Linked DNA regions of Homo sapiens: region 2 is linked to region 1. A link means that fine-mapping ties the variant in region 1 to the expression of a gene that starts in the linked region. Tissue or cell type: whole blood. Region 1 holds a variant in brackets; the other region holds the start of a gene. All regions are shown on one strand. Distances are between the middles of the regions.

The links.
Region 2: BLMH starts here. The variant in region 1 is fine-mapped to the expression of BLMH in whole blood (TOPMed, PIP above 0.99).

Annotation. Positions count from the first base shown.
Region 1 is chr17:30,326,784-30,335,121 of GRCh38, forward strand. TMIGD1 (transmembrane and immunoglobulin domain containing 1) reads right to left here and starts at 7,274. Exons shown (of 7, transcript NM_206832.3): 1 at 7,217-7,274; 2 at 5,269-5,375; 3 at 2,468-2,746. The coding sequence starts at 5,350. The variant T/C (reference allele first, on the strand shown) is at 3,947.
Region 2 is chr17:30,288,395-30,296,732 of GRCh38, forward strand. It overlaps BLMH (bleomycin hydrolase), which reads right to left and starts at 3,550. Exons shown (of 12, transcript NM_000386.4): 1 at 3,413-3,550; 2 at 2,917-3,114; 3 at 979-1,088. The coding sequence starts at 3,425. It overlaps LOC124903971 (a long non-coding RNA gene), which reads left to right and starts at 6,296. Exons shown (of 2, transcript XR_007065700.1): 1 at 6,296-7,146. RefSeq lists an enhancer at 2,771-2,830 and silencers at 3,281-3,350, 3,551-3,960.

The DNA of each region.
Region 1 (8,338 bases):
TTTTGATAAGTATTTTGAAAGAGGTGTTCTCAATTTAAACTTTCAGCAACGAGGTATGAGAGGACCTGTTTCTCCACATTCTCCCCCAAACAGTGTATTATCAAGCTTCCATTTAGTTCTTGATTCTGCTATTTATAACAATAATGGTCCTGCCTTTGAAGGGTACATAATATCCTTGTCACATTTTATGAGCTCATTTTGATTTATTGGTTGATGACTTTGTGTCAGTACTGTCATTATGGATTACTGAGCAATTAACTATACACACACACACACACACACACACACACACACACTTAGCAACAATGATATTTAGGAGATTGTTATAAACAGAATTTAAACAGTGGATTGAGGCTAGAAAACTGAAAACAATTTCTTTAAGTCATCAAATCACATTGTTGGCATTTCTGCCATGTCTCCCTTAAGAGGGTTCCATCAGCCTGGGCAACATAGCAAAACCCCGTCTCTACAAAAAATACAAAAATCAGCTCGGCCTGGTGGTGCACGCCTGTAGTCCCAGCTACTTGGAAGGCTGAGGCAGGCAGATCACTTGAGCCTGGGAGGCAGAGGTTATAGTGAGCTGAGATTGTGCCACTGCACTCCAGTGTAGGTGACAGAGTGAGACCCTGTCTCAAAAAAAAAAAAAGTTTCGTGGAATAAGCACTTAAGCACTAGGTTAGAAGCTTGGGAATTAGTGTTTTATTCTCAGCTGCACCTATGATTTGAGCCCCTAGTCCGGGCCTTAGTTTCCTTAGCTGGCTTTTTATTTTATTTTATTTTATTTTATTTTTTTTGAGACAGGGTCTCACTCTGTTGCCCAGGTTGAAATGCAGTGGCGCAATCACAGCTCGCTGAAGCCTCAAACTTCTGGGCTCAGAAGATCCTGTAGCCTCAGCCTCCCGAGCAGCTGGGGCTACAGATGTGTGCCACCATGCCCAGCTAATTAAAAACACACCTTATTTTTTTTTTTGGTAGAAATAGGGTCTCACTATGTTATGTTTGTAGAGATAGGGTCTTTCTACCAAATCATACTGCATCATTATACCTCACCCATTGCCATACCATCCACACCATTCTCATGCAGAACCAGCTTTTCACCCAACAACCCATGTGATCATCTACATTGTATCACTTGACAGTCCCCTAAGCCTATACAGTTCTACCAATGGGTTACCAATACCTGGAACCCAATCATTGAAAAGCTTCACCTTTTTTGATTTTAAGGTGATGTTTAAAGATTCCCTAATGAAAATCTTTTTTTTTTTTTTTTGAGATGGGTCTCACACTGTTGCCCAGGCTGGAGTGCAGTGGTGGCATCTCAGCTCATTGCAACCTCTGCTTCTTGAGTTCAAGCAATTCTCCTGCCTCAGCCTCCTGAGTAGCTGAGATTACAGGTGCCTACCACCGCACCTGGCCAATTTTTGTATTTTTAGTAGAGGCCAGGTTTCACCATTGTTGGTCAGGCTGGTCTCGAACTCCTGATCTTAAGTGATCCATTTGCCTCTGCCTCCCAAAGTGTTGGGATTACACACATGAGCCACTGTGCCAGGCCATGAAAATCTGTCTAAGCAGAACACAAAAGCTAGGAACTACAAAGGAAAAGACTTGAAGCTTTAAATATATAAACATTTAAAATTTCAATATGGCAAAAAAGAACAATAAAAATTTTCAAAAACAAATAGGAGAAATACTTACAATTCAAAATGACAAAGGACTAATTTCCTTAATCTACAAAGCCCTTGTACAGATTAATGAGAAAAAAGCATAAAACCCAACGGAAAAAAATGAGTTAAGGATACAAGCAGGCATTTCATGGAAACAAACAAAAAAAAGACCATTATGTTTACACAAAGGTGAACACCCTCATTCTTAATTTAAAAAATGAAAACAGGCTGGGTGCAGTGGCTCACACCTGTAATCCCAGCAGTTTGAGAGGCTGAGGTAGGCGGTTCACTCGAGGTTAGGAGCTTGAGACCAGCCTGGCCAACATGGTGAACCCCCCGTCTCTACTAAAAATACAAAAATTAAAAATTAGCTGGGCATGGTAGTGGGCACCTGCAGTCCCAGCTACCCAGGAGGCTGAGGCAGGAGAATCGCTTGAACCCGGGAGGTGGAGGTTGCAGTGAGCCGAGATTGCGCCACTGAACTGCACTCCAGCCTGGGCAACAGAGCGAGACTCTGTCTCAAAAAAAAAAAAAAGAAAGAAAGAAAAAAGAAAAAGAAAAAAGAAAAGAAAAGAGAAAAGAAAAAAAAGAAAAGGAAAAGAAAATTTCAAAGGAGGCTGGCAAATTCTCAGAGTTTGGCGATACTCAGTGCTCATGAGGGTGAGGGGAAATAGGTACTCTCATACTTTGTGGTAGGAGCATAAATTGGGCAATTTGGCAATACCAAGACCTAGATTTCAACTACCACTTCATGTGTTACAGACATTACAGACCCACTAGCTGTTTCTTTTCCCCTCACTCACAAGTAACATTCAGCACCACCGAAACGGACACGGACTGATCCCTCCCCAGCCTGCAGGTAAAGCTGATTCCGTTGTCATTTTCACTGATGGAAGAGACACAGACAGAGCTGGAATTGATTTTGTTTCCAGATTTCAAATCCACTCTCCCCTCCTCTCGGTACCAGAGCAGTTCTTCCTCTCTGGTGTGGTTTTGAACAGCACATATCAGAGATGCTTGGGAGCCAGGTGTAGTATCCAGGATATAGTTCTCAGTTTTACCATTCACAGTTAAAACAGAACCTGGGAGTATAGGGAGAAACTATTTAGATATACAGAGTAAACAACCTTAATGCTCATGAACAGGGGATTGGTTAAATAAGTTATGTTACATCAGTAGAACAAAATAAACTCTCAACGATTAAAAATAGTCATATTGATCTATATGATTTTATAATGAAAAATATTCATAATGTATTGTTAACTGAAAAAGAAAAAGATTAAAATGTGGTCATCAAATTTTTGTGCACATTGGAATCACCAGGGGATCTTTTAAAAAGTACTGATGTAGCTGGGTGCTGTGCCTATAATCCCAGGGCTTTGGGAGGTAGAGGCGGGAGGATCGCTTGAGCTCAGGAGTTCAAGATCAGCCTGGGTAACATAGTGAGACTCCGTCTCTACAAAAAATAAAAAAATAAAAAAAAAAACATTAGCCAGGCATGGTGGTGTGCACCCATACTTTTAGCTACTTGGGAGGATAAGGTGGGAGACTCGCTTGAGCCCAGGAGGTGGAGGTTGCAGTGAGCCAAGATCGCACCATTGAACTCCAGTCTGGGTGATAGAGCAAGACCTTGCCCCCAAAAAAAAGTACTGATGCCTGATTCTCATCCCCAGACATCTGATTAGTTGACATGAGTGCAATCTGGGCATTGTGTTGTTTAAAGGCACCCCACCCCCCGACCCCCGGTGATTTGAGAAGCATCAGGTTAGAAATCAATACATACAGAATGATCATACACATATGTGTGTATGTGTGTATACATGGAAGTATTTTTTCATGGAAAAAAGACAGGAAAAAACCCATATATATTGAATACACACACACGCATGCATATATGTATATACATATACACATACCATATTTAATTTGTTTACTTGAAGGGATTGAAAGTGGGAAAGCAAGGGAATGAAATGGAAAAATATTTAAGGTATAAACTTTAGGCAAAAAGGCAGAATATAAATTAAAGCTCTAATAATTACTACAAATGTATCAAAATTGCACATGCAGATGAGTAAGAACTGATTTGAAAACATTTTCTGCTTAAATGATAGGATTATGGACAAATTGGGTCTTGCATCTATAATGTTTTAATATTGTTTTGGCAGTGAAGAAAAATAAAAAGATGTTTAAGTAGTTGAGGTTTGTGTGGTAGACCAGTCTTTGTGGGTTGGGTGATCAGGATACATACCAGGTTTTTTTTGTTTTGTTTTGTTTTTCAGCTC[T/C]GACTTTTAGAAACCTATTCATTGCATAGTAATACACCTGAATTTCGGTTTTTATTTTTCTGATTCAGAAGCAAGTAACAAAAGCTAAAAAAGAACTTTATCTGTCATAAACCTGTACCCCAGATAACATTTGTTAATATGTTCTGTAAACACATTAACCTTCCTTTTAAAACACTTAAGCTGGCCGGGCATGGTGGCTCATGCCTGTAATCCCACACTTTGGGAGGCTGAGGCGGACGGATCACCTGAGGTCAAAAGTTTGAGACCAGCCTGGCCAACATAGTGAAACCCTGTCTCTACTAAAAATACAAAAAAATTAGCCAGGCATGGTGGCGGGCTCCTGTAATCCCAGCTACTCGGGAGGCTGAGGCAGGAGAATCACTTGAACCTGGGAGATGAAGGTTGCAGTGAGCCAAGATCACACCACTGCACTCCAGCCTGGGCAACAAAGTGAGACTTCTTCTCAAAAAAGCAAAAAACTTAAGCTACTTGTAAAGATAATGGTATTGTTGTCTAGTATTTTATTAAAATATGGAATATTGAGTGGTTGTCATCTCTGGATGAAAGTATTTGGGGGGATTTGTACTTTTCTTTTTTTTTTTATAGATTGCCTGATTTATTTTACAATGACTATGCATTACTTTTAAAATCAGAAAAGAGTGGTAGGAGAGCAAATGCTGGAAAGATTTTCATGTGAAATGGTATGTTCAGATAAACAGATGATTATTTGGGGTAACATTAGTAATAAAATGCATTAAAATGTAGGAGGATTCTGGTGGTGGCTCTGGAGAGAATAGAATACTTCACCTTGTCTTGTAATAATAAAACCCTAAAAACAATATTTTTCCATTTGATTTTTTTTTTTTTTTTTTTGAGACGGAGTCTCGCCCTGTCGCCCAGGCTGGAGTACAGTGACGTAATCTCGGCTCACTCACTGCAAGCTCCACCTCCTGGGTTCACGCCATTCTCCTGCCTCAGCCACCCGAGTAGCTGGAACTACAGGCGCCTGCCAGCACACCAGGCTAATTTTTTGTATTTTTAGTAGAGATGGGGTTTCACCGTGTTAGCCAGGATGGTCTCGATCTCCTGACCTCATGATTCACCTGCCTCGGCCTCCCAAAGTGTTGGGATTACAGGCGTGAGCCACCCGCCTGGCCTCCATTTGATTTTTTATTGTTAGTTGACTCCTGTACTGTGAGCCATGCTAACTGTGTAGTCATTCCAATTTGGAATTTAAGGATATATCCAATGCCCATTGATCACTTTTCTTAATCGGAAATTTTTCTTTATCTAAAAAGAGGCCAAAAAGAACTTTAACTTACTTGTCATCTCACGTGGCAGAAATAAAATTACTAAGAGAAGAAATCTTCCCATTTGCATTATGACACTGCTCTTCCATGCCATCTTTAATGAGTTAAACTCAGATCTACTAAGGGAAAAATAGTGCAGTTGGTTTTGTACTTTGGTCTGCAATGAGTTCGTGAACCTTCCTTCTGTCTATTATGCATTTAAAGTGAAGTCCCAGATGAATCATCCCAGCTATAACGGTACTACTTCTAGCTTTTAATTAAACAACCCTGTCTGACTAAGTTCAAAGTACATTTAGTAGTAAGAAATTTTTTTTAAAAGCAACATAAAACCACAGGAAATAGGCTATGACAGATAGAGCAGCGTCAGGGTGCCCTGGGGAAGATGAAACCAGTCTTCCCTAGAGAAACTGATAGAATTTCATTTTAGCAGAATGAAACTTGTCTCATTCTCAGACAGTCCCTACTGAACAAAGTAATTCTTGTTCTGAAAGTTTTTCTTGGGTCATTTTTGTAAAGATGTTCTCTGATAATAGAGAGTTTTTGAGACTACTCCAAATCCCATAGATTCAAATGGTGTGTACGTAGAAAAGCCTCAATTGAAACATGGCCTCTAGTTTAAACCATGTTAATCTTGTCTTTCTCCCACTATTCTCTCTCTCTCTTCCCCTTGACCCAATGGACTAAAAATAATAAATAATAAAGGTGTCCTTTCTCCCTTCTTGCTTTTGCTTCAACTCTCCCTCTCCCTAAGATATTCTCCATTTCCATCTGGGAAAAAAACATATATTCATTACTTCCTTTCAAGAGTACTACTATAAATATAGCGAACCACATACGGAAAACTTTCTGCGCAACAGGGACTGTGCTAAACACTTTACATACATCATTTCAGTCACAATTAAGCCTCCTAACAACCCTCCTGAGGTCGTTTCTATAGATTTAAAGAGACTATGTAATTTGCCTGAGATCCCACAGACAGTAAATGTCAAGGTCGGGATTTGAACCCAGACTCCCAAGACCATGCTCTTAACCACCCTACTCTCAACCACCCTACTACCCAATCTACTGCCTAGATTAATATTCTTTTCCTTTAAGAAGCTGCTGTTAGGCTGGGTGCAGTGGCTCATGCCTGTAATCCCAGCACTTTAGGAGCTGAGGCAGGTGGATTACCTGAGGTCAGGAGTTTGAGACTAGCCTGACCAACATAGTGAAACCCCATCTCTACTAAAAATGCAAAAAAAAAAAAAAAAAATTAGCCAGGCATGGTGGCGAGCGCCTGTAATCCCAGCTACTCGGGAGGCTGAGGCAGGAGAATTGCTTGAACCTGGGAGGTGGAGGTTGCAGTGAGCCAAGATTATGCCACTGCACTCCAGCCTGGGCGACAGAGTGAGGCTCGGTCTCAAAAAATAAAAATAAAAAATAAAAAAATAAAAAAAAGCTGCTGTTAATCTTTTCCAGTCCCTGGCCACTGGGAGTTCTCTCCCCTTAACACCAGTATTAATTTACAAGAGCTGAAATATACCTATACCTACTCTACTCCTCCCCTGTCCCAGGCGTGCCCTGACAGGAGTAAGTTTCATTCATGCCAGGCTCACCCTTTCTGGCAGACAAGCCTGCATCAATCTTTTCGTAAGATGCAATTACTACTAATATTGATTCTTTTGTAATTTTAAATATTTGCCAAAAAGATTTCTATCACAGTGTTGTAACAGTGATTACTGCAGAATGTGGTCAATAGTAGAGTTTTCTCAAGCGCTCTGCACTACAAGTACTCAATAAAAACTGAGAGTGCAGGCTTCTTGCCAGACCTCACCCAGCCCTATTAAGGGGACAAATCTATGTCTTCTCTTTCCCTCCACTCCACCGAGACAGCAACTTTTCAAAATGTATTCCCCTCACTTGGCTTGTTTTTAATCTGTATGACTCTCTACTTTCTATATAAGACAGTCTTACCACTTACCTCTTGAGCTCTGAGAAGCTGACTTCCTTGGCCAACTGTTCCTCTGCCTGAAAACCCTAAATGCTTTCCCTGTTACAATCCTTTATAATACTTGAATTTGAACGCTTTATGACAGCAGGGTCAAATAAATAAGATAACTTGGGTTCAAAGTCTGTTTTTCTTTATGGAGTCTTAGAGAAGATAGTAATTGGGAAAGACATCTTCTTAAGATCTAAGTTTCTATGTCTACCTCGGTTACTAGGTGGGGCCGGATATTACTAACAGGGATGTGTTGTTCCAAGAAAGCTTGAACTTGTGCAAAAATCTGTAGCGCATCTCACTGAATATTGTCATATTTAAGTAAGATGGCTGCGTTTTGATCATCTAGCCTGGGGATTGTGAAGGGACGAGTCCAAAGAGAAGTTTGACTTTAACAGAGGTCAAAACATTGGAAGATTCTACACAACTTAAATAATGCTGGAAAAGTCTTAGTTACCACTAGTAACCCAAGCCCAGTGCATAAGCTGTACCAAGCCAGGCATGGCAGGGAGCCGTTTTTTTGTTGTTGTTGTTTGTTTTGTTTTTTGAGGCAGGGTTTCACTCTGTCACCCAGATTGGAATGCAATGGCACAATTGTGGCTGACTGAACCTCTGCTCCCAGCCTCCCAAGGAGCTAGGACTACTGGCGTGAGTCACCATGCCCAGCTAAACTTTGTTAATATATATATTTTTGGTAGAGATGAAATTTCGCCATGTTTCCTAGGCTGGTCTCTAACTCCCGGCCTTAAGCAATCTGCCCACCTTGGCCTAGGGAACAGTTTTATCCTCTTGAGGCTCTCACCTGATTGGGAGATCCTTGCATTACACTATGTTTATGGTATTGTTAACGATGCAAATTTTATCTGCCAAGTACTATTGTTCCCATTTACACAAAAATATAACAGAAGAATATTTATAGTTATCTACACATTTTAACACACTGCTGAAGCACACCAGCAATCTGCCTCTTACTAGCTATGTAACTTTGAAAAGTTATTTAACCTCCATGAGCCTCAGGATCTTCATCAATACAATGGAAATAGTAATAGTACCCTCCCTACGGAGTCACTGTGAGGATTAAATGAAATGAAGCATGTGAATCTG
Region 2 (8,338 bases), 38 kb before region 1:
TTGCCTAGGCTGGAGTGCAGTGGTGCAATCTCACTGCAGCCTCAACCTCCTGAGCTCAAGCAATCCTCCTACCTCAGCCTCCTGAGTAGCTGGGAGGACAGGTGTGCACCACGCGTGGCTAATTTTTGTATTTTTTGTAGAGATGGGGTTTCGCCAGGTCCAGACTGGTCTCAAATTCCTGGGCTCAAGCAATCCTCTCACCTCAGCCTCCCAAAGTGCTGGGATTACAGGCATGAGCCACCAAACCAGGTCAGTAATATACATTTTGAAGATTAGGAAATGGAATATGGCCAGGAGTGGTGGCTCACACCTGTGATCCCAGCACTTTGGGAGGCCAAGGCAGGCAGATCACTTGAGGTCAGGAGTTCGAGACCAGTCTGACCAACACGGTGAAATGCCCTGTCTCTACTAAAAATACAAAAATTAGCTGGGCATGGTGGCATGTGCCTGTGATTCCAGCTACTTGGGAGGCTGAGTTGAGAGGATGGCTTGAACCCAGGAGGCAGAGGTTACAGTGAGCCGAGACTGTGCCACAGCCCTCTAGCCCGGGTGGCAGGGTGAGACTGTCTCAAAAAAATAAATAAACAAATAAACAATCAAATAAAATTATTTACTGTTTTTCAGACAAGTTCTTGAGAGGGAAATTAGGTCCTAGAAAAGAACAAATAACCTAAAAAGATGTTAAAAAGGGAGATATATTGAATTGAATATTGAATATAAAATTTAAAATTTTAAATAGACAAGCAAGCAGTAAGATGAGTCAGTAAACTTATTTCATTGCAAAAAAATGGCCACCTACCAACCAAAAACAGTTCTGCCTTTGAAAGAGTCAACTTTTGATACTCTGGAAGTCAGAATAAAAGGTGTCTCACCTATTATGAAAGGGCAGGCTATAACTGGAAAAGCTACAAAAGAAGAGGCAGTCCCTACCAAGGCTGATATCAATACAAAAAGAATCTTGCCAGATCTGTCCCATACCTTGTCCCAAAAAAACAGGTAAGATTGGCTAAACTCAAATTCTTCAATATTTAACTTTTTCATGAATGGAAGCCTCATAACATTCAGACAAGAAAAGATCCAGCATCGCCCTGAAACAAGAAAGCACATCAAGAAATTATGAGGGTTCACATAGACTGCACTGCTCCAACTGTATTTCCCACCAATGAACTCATGACACGATCTGGACAATTCAGAAAGAGTAAATCAGAAAGAGCAGAAAGATTAAAAACAAAACAAGAAAGGTGGTAATTATTATTAGCAATATATATGCAAAGGTTTAATATCTTTAACACAAAAACACTCTTTACGTATCAAATAAAGAATCCATTTTTCAGAGTAATGCCTTCTCCAAATTGTACTCTACTTCAAAATAAATTAACTGAGAGCGCCATTAGAAAAGTCTTTTAAGGTCTTAAATACAGGGAAATTATCTCTTTTCTGAGGGAAAATTCTGAGGGAAAAACTTTGACTTGTATTGGGTATAACCTTTTTACTAATATGAAAATATGTTTATAATATATTGGTAAGTGAAAAAGATAGGTAGCTTACATAACAATGTATAAGGTATCAATGCATATTAAACACTATTAAACACACACACACACACAAAACTTGACAAATATACAAGAAAAATATTTACTTGGTATTTACAAATATTCTACATTAAACAAAAATAATTTTGTAACAAGAAGAAAACTCTAGTTAACTATAGTGTTTTATGAAAGTCACTAGTGCCTATTAGTTCGTCTTTACCTTACATTTACCTGTATGTCACCTCTCTTCTATATGCTATATATTTCTAGTAGAGGGGATCTGGATGCACTGGTGATGTGAAAACTGCATGAAAATAAACTACACAACTCACATGCTATTTGGATCTTTTGTATGTAAAAGTGACACTGCAAAATGTGTAAGACCTGACCTGTTCCCTAACGGGTCACTGCAATCTAAACTATGTAGGACCACTGTGACATTACTAACTGGATCATCTGTAGCCTGAGAGCCCACACCACTCCAAGCACTTTCTTCTAAAGCAAAACATTAATTATTGTAAGGTCTTGACTTTTTCCTTAACATTTAAAAAATCAACTTTATTCAGGTATAATGTACATACAATAAAATGTACTCACGTTAAATGTGTGCTTTGTGAGTTCTAACCGACTCTAAACAAGCACTGATGTGCTTCCTGTCCGTATAGATAGACTGGGGGGTCGTTTTTAAGTATAGAAAGACTTTAAAAAATCCGTTTAGTACAATTTTGTTGTGAGAATGTGCTCCTTATTTAGATTGCTGGATATCCAATCTTTCACTATACCTGTTTTTTCTGAGAGTGGTGCTAGAAAGCAGATAGCAAAACGAGACTTCTTGACCAGCAAGGCATGAGAACAGAACTTTTTTCTGTATTACAAACTGATCTACTGGTGGGAACTGAGCCCATCAGCACATTAGCTTCAGTTGTAACCAAGAAGCATATTTAAAAGTAACATCTGATGACATTTTAATGTAATTACATTGTATCTTTTCTATTTCATAGTATAGGGCCTTCAGGGCATTTCTGGGGAGTCCTCCAAAGATATGAACATTTTCACATGTTCTGTTTTGTGACCAAGACCATACATCTCCAAGACACGGGCTACAAACCACACAGCATTGGAACATAATATAGTCAATTACACTCAAACGTATACTCATGGACATGTCACTTTTGTACTCTAACCGCATGTACTAACAAGCCACAGAACAGCAAAACAAACCACATGGGTAATGTTCTTAGACCTGCCTGTACCTGTGCCTCATTCTTTACGAATTTACGACCAGTTCTTTCAGTACGAATTTAAGACCACTCTTAAATAAGACACCAAAATGGGACGCTGTCAGGAAGGTCAAGGAACGTATGGGAGAAGTGGAAGCCCACACCTGAGCTCTTCTGGTTGGTGATTGGCTTGCCCTCCTGGGGCACGGCGTGCTGGAACACATGCTGCGCGCGCTGCACCGTGGCCCGCTTCAGACAGATGTCCAGCAGGTCGTGGGTGGTCCCGACATTCTGGGCAAGTACGAACTGGGGGTCGGAATTCAGTTTCTGTATCAGAGCAGCTACCTTCTCCGAATTCAGTCCTGTTGGGAGACCAAACAGGATTTTAACGCAAAAAGAGGGGGAAAGGGCTGATCTGGGGCTCCCGCGTCCCGAATCTAACTTCGTAAGCGCATCCTGGGGTGCCCGCTGCAGCGGGGAAACCCATAAGCGGCATCCTCCTCCAAGGAGCTGTCTCCCTCCAGGCCGATCCAGCCTGCCCCGAAAGCTCCCTCCCCGCCATCGCCAAGGGTCCCAGCCCCCGGCCTTCCCCGCCGCCGGGCCTCACGGGGACCGCGGAGCTCCTCCAGAGGACCGCGGCGGGGGACGGCGGCACCTCACCCGAGCTGCTCATGGCGCCCACGCTGCCCGGCGGGGTAACGGTAGCTTCCAGGGTCCTTGGGCGAGCGCCGGGATTGCGCTGCGGCTCGCTGCCTAGGGGGCCCGACCTGTCTCTCGCACCCGGAGCGCCGGAAAAAGGAAACCGGCTCGGCGGCGGCGGCGGCGGCGGCGGCGGGGAGGCTGAGGCTGGGAGAAACGGGGTCCGCGGAGGGACAAAACTCCCCCCTCGCGTTGCTGAGTCAGCGCCGTCGGGGCTGGCCCCGCCCGGGGGAGGGCCGACGGGGGCGGCCTAGCTGACGCGCTGGGTCCGCCAGCGCCCGGGGGCTGAGGCCGCGCCTGCCCCCGCGCAGGACCGCACAGATGGTCTGCGCGCCAGGGCGGCGCCGGCGCCTTCTCCCCCTAGGTTCCCGCCTCCGGGCCGCGCGGGCGCCCTCCCGGGATCAGGCCCGCTCCAAGGAGGGAGGCTGACGGGTTCCCTGTGGGCCCAGACCCCCAGTACTCTAGCATCGGGGAATCGTCCCCAGGAAGCCTTGTGAGAAGCCAAAAGGGAGCTCGAGGCGGGAGGGAGGAGCTGAGAGGTCCCATAATTAAGCGTCGGGCTTAGGACGGGTCGATATGTCACAAGGAATGCACCCGAAGGCTCTTCCTATAGGCTTCGTTTGCTGACCAATCACTGCATTCTCAATGGCAACTTGTTGCTTGGATTCTCATCAGAAGCAAATAATTGTCTTTGAGGGGGAATGGGAACCAAGCTCTTCCCCACCCACTCCAAAGCTACTACCAGAGTTCTACAAATAGACATCTGCTCATTTCAAGAACACTACCCATCTGGTCTTCACGGAGTCCACGAGTGGCTCCTGTATAGTCCAGCATGTCCCGTTGGGTTTAACTCAGGAGGATGACAGAGGCTAGCCGTATGCATCAATATTGTTTCGCCGAGTTCTCTACAAAACTAACTGATGCTCCCCCTCTAGGCTTTCAAGATAACTCAACAGTTTCCCAAAGTTTTGAGATTGTAAAAACCTTGTTTTTGTTGATTCCGTGTTTCATGCCCTGAAATCTCAGCCCTTAGTAAGATGCTGGGATAGAACCCACAGAGAGTAAAACAAAAACACTGAAACCCTGTATCTGCTATTCAAAACGATGAGGTTGAGTGTGTGTGTGTGTAACCTAGAATCTAGGTCTTCTTAGATTGAAAATCATCGCAGTTCTAAGGAACTCTGATATCTGGAAAAATCCATACTCAGGCACCAATCAGTCATTTGAGAAAGCACGGTTTCTATGTCCCTAGAGAGACTCGGCTAAAAATTGGGGCTATAACATAGCAACTATCTTAAGTGGGCCCATCAACCATCCTATTCTGAGGTTCTTTCAATATCTGAAAAAGAAGAGGCTGAAAATTATACAGAAAGAAATCACTGGTCCTTTCACAAAATGATGTTCAAGCATCCTGCCCAATTCAAGTCATAAATTTTTATTCAGTATCTAACATGTACTAGGCACTGGACAAACTGCTGATGACATAGAGACGAACAAAGCTTAATCTTGCCGTTAAGAAACTCAATGTAGTAGGAAAGAGATGCAAAACAACTTTTAGACTATCTGTAGTAGCATACCAATAGTGCTGTAGACTGTAGAAGCAATGAGGAGAGCACTGTCAATTAGGGCCAAAGGGTGCCTGAAAATAGAAGTGACAAGAGAGCATGATCTTGAAGAGTGGATGAGATTTTTACAAGTCAAAGAACAGGAGAAGGGCATTCAAGGCACCAGCGAAGGCGCAGTGAATAAAATCATGTTCAAGAAAGGGTGCATCATAATCGGATGTGGCTAAGAGCAAGGCATGTTTTGGGAGCAGAGGCAAGGTGTAGGACTGGAAAAGTTTTGTAGGTTTGGGCCAAGATATAAAGGGTTTTATGTTCAATGCCTGAGCATCTGGACTTTATCTTATGGTTAATTAGAAGACAAAATGGGTTTTGAAACAAAGGAAAAATATGCTCAAGTCTGTGTAAAAAAAGAAACCTGGTGGCAGTGGGGAGAGTAATTTGGAGGGGAGGGGCTCTGGAGATAGGGAAACTGGTTAGAAGGTTCTTCCAGTAGTGAACTTGGGAGAGGACAAAAGCCTTACATTGCGGAAAGGGAAGAGGCATTGATAATCTTGAAGTTTTCAGCGGAATAAGAAGATGGAAGGTGGTGTCATTAACCAAGAGAGGGCATACAGAAAAATAGGCATATTTGCATATTTGCAAGTGTGCAGATCTGAACTGAGTTTGGGCCATAGCAAAATTAGGATGCCCCACAGGACACCCAGGAAGAGAAGTTCAGGACGTAGATGAAAAGATGTCTAGAGATTAGATGAGACACATAGGTTCGAGGTGGAACAATGAAAGTCAGCAGGGTTACAGAGGGAAAGAGGATAGAGCAATAAAGAGATGAAGACCACAGATAGTGCCCTGGGCTGCAATGTGCAGTTGCACAGGGTGTTCATGGCACAAGGGCACCAGGCTGAGTGTGGTGAGTAGGGACTAAAATGCAGTCCAGGCTCTGCTTGCCAAGCCATGCACCCTGGCCCAGGCTGTGCACAGAGTATGATGTACCTTTCACTACTTTTTTTTTTTTTTTGAGATGAGTCTCACTCTGTCACCCAGGCTGGGGTGCAGTGGCATAATCTCGGCTCACTGCAACCTCCACCTCCTGGGTTCAAGCAATTTGCCTGCCTCAGCATCCTGAGTAGCTGGGATTACAGGCACGCACCACCATACCCGGCTAATTTTTGTATTTTTAGGAGAGACGGGGTTTCACCATGTTGGCCAGGCCGGTCTTGAACCCCTGACCTCGTGATCTGCCCACCTCGGCCTCCCAAAGTGCTGGAATTAAAGGCATGAGCCACCACGCCTGGCCCCTTTCACAACTTCTTATAAGGATGCCATATGGGAGTAGTATTAGCTCTGAAAATGATAATGTTTAAAGTATGGGTGAAGACAGAGGAGCCAGCAGAAATAGAAAGATCAGTCAGCGAAGTAGGAGACCCGGGGAGTTATGTCCTGGAATCCCAGGAAGGCAAGGAGAGGACAGTGAATTGAATTAAAAGCTGCAGAAAGTCAAGTAAGATTGGTTTTGGCAACTGGGTTACAGGCAACCTTAGAGAGGGCAGTTTTAGTGGAAGGGAAGGGTGGGCAGAAGCCACATCGTAATGAGTTGAGAGGGAGGTAAATATTAGGGAAGCTCTTTGGGGAGAAAGGGTAAATTTGTGTCTACTGGAGGATGAGAGGAAGGAACCAGTACAGATGAGAGATTAAATATGTGTCAGAGAGGATACAATTGCAAGAGTAAGAGCTCAGGAGGAGATGGAATCACTGGGGAAGGTGGAGGGGACCAGTTTTACAGCTATTGCCACCCTTTCCATACTGGCGATTACATTTCTCCACCCCATGCCCAGAGATTTCTATCATCATCTCTTTGCTGGCCTCCTGCTCTGTCCTCATCATCAGGGTGGCACCCTTATTACCAGATTTCCACCCAGCAATTCACACCCATGCACTCAGCCCCCATATGGGCATGGTGAGGAGGTACAGAATAAAACCGGTTTCCCAGTGGGTTACCCCCAAATGACCTACCCAGGAAGACATTTCTCCAAGAAGAAAATTCTGTGTTCTATCCTTCTTATTCCAGCCAGAAGAGATGTTGTACAGCCCGGTGACACCTCGTGGGACAAAGCAACCAGAAACAGAATTCTAGTATGAAGTCTCTAATATTAAAAAAGAAAATATTGCCTGTAATCCCAGCACTTTGGGAAGCTGAGGTGGGAGGATTCCTGCCTTGAGTTCAAGGCCAGGAGTTGAAGACCAGCCTGGGCAACATAGTGAAACTCCACCACTACAAAAAAAAAAAAAAAAAAAGAAAGAAAAAGTTTTATAAAAAATTAGCTGAATGTGGTGGCAGACACTTTTAGACCTAGCTACTCAGGAGACTGAGACGGGAGGATCACTTGAGCCCAGGAGTTTGAGGCTGCGGTGAGCTATGATCACACTGCTGTACTCAGCTCTCTCTAAAAAGAAAGAAAAGAAAATCTTTATAAATCCTGTGAGGCAGCACCATTTGCCACTGCAGATATGCCTTCTGCCTGTTGCTTCCATGCCACTCTACCAAGTTAAAGCAAACAAGGCCAGTCTCAAGGCAAATTTTCCACCCTGTGTCTCCTCCTTTGCTGTCCACCAATCTTTGACATGTGTTTGTCAACTACTTCTTTTTTTTTTTTTTTTGAGATGAAGTCTCGTTCTTGTCCCCCGGGCTGGAGTGCAATGGCGTGATCTCGGCTCACTGCAATCTCTGCATCCCAGGTTCAAGCAATTCTCCTGCCTCAGCCTCCCAAGTAGCTGGGATTACAGGCACCTGGCCACCATACCCAGCTAACTTGTGTATTTTTAGTAGAGACGGGGTTTCACCATGTTGACCAGGCTGGTTTCGAACTCCTGACCTCAGGTGATCCGCCTGGCTCGGCCTCCCAAAGTGCTGGGATTACAGGCATGAGCCACTGTGCCCGGCCGCAACTACTTCTATTTCAATAGAAAAGACCAGGTTTTTATGTTGAATGGAAGTCTAGGCTAGAATCTAACACAAACATTCTCCAATTCTATGAAACTCATTCATACTTAAGTGTTGTCCCACTAACTCCAAGATTTGCCTTGGTCAGGAAGCCTCCTTATATTTCACTAGATGTGATAGTCAGCTTCAGAGTTCACACATTGGTAGTCTACTGGAGCAAATTCAGCTTTGAGACGTTTTGTTTGGCCTGCATGGTAATTTAAAATTTTTGAGCTGGCCGGGCAGTGGCTCATGCCTGGAATCCCAGCACTTTGGAAGGCTGAGGCAGGCAGAATGCTCAGGAGTTGGAGATCAGCCTGAGCAACATGGCAAAACCCTATGTCT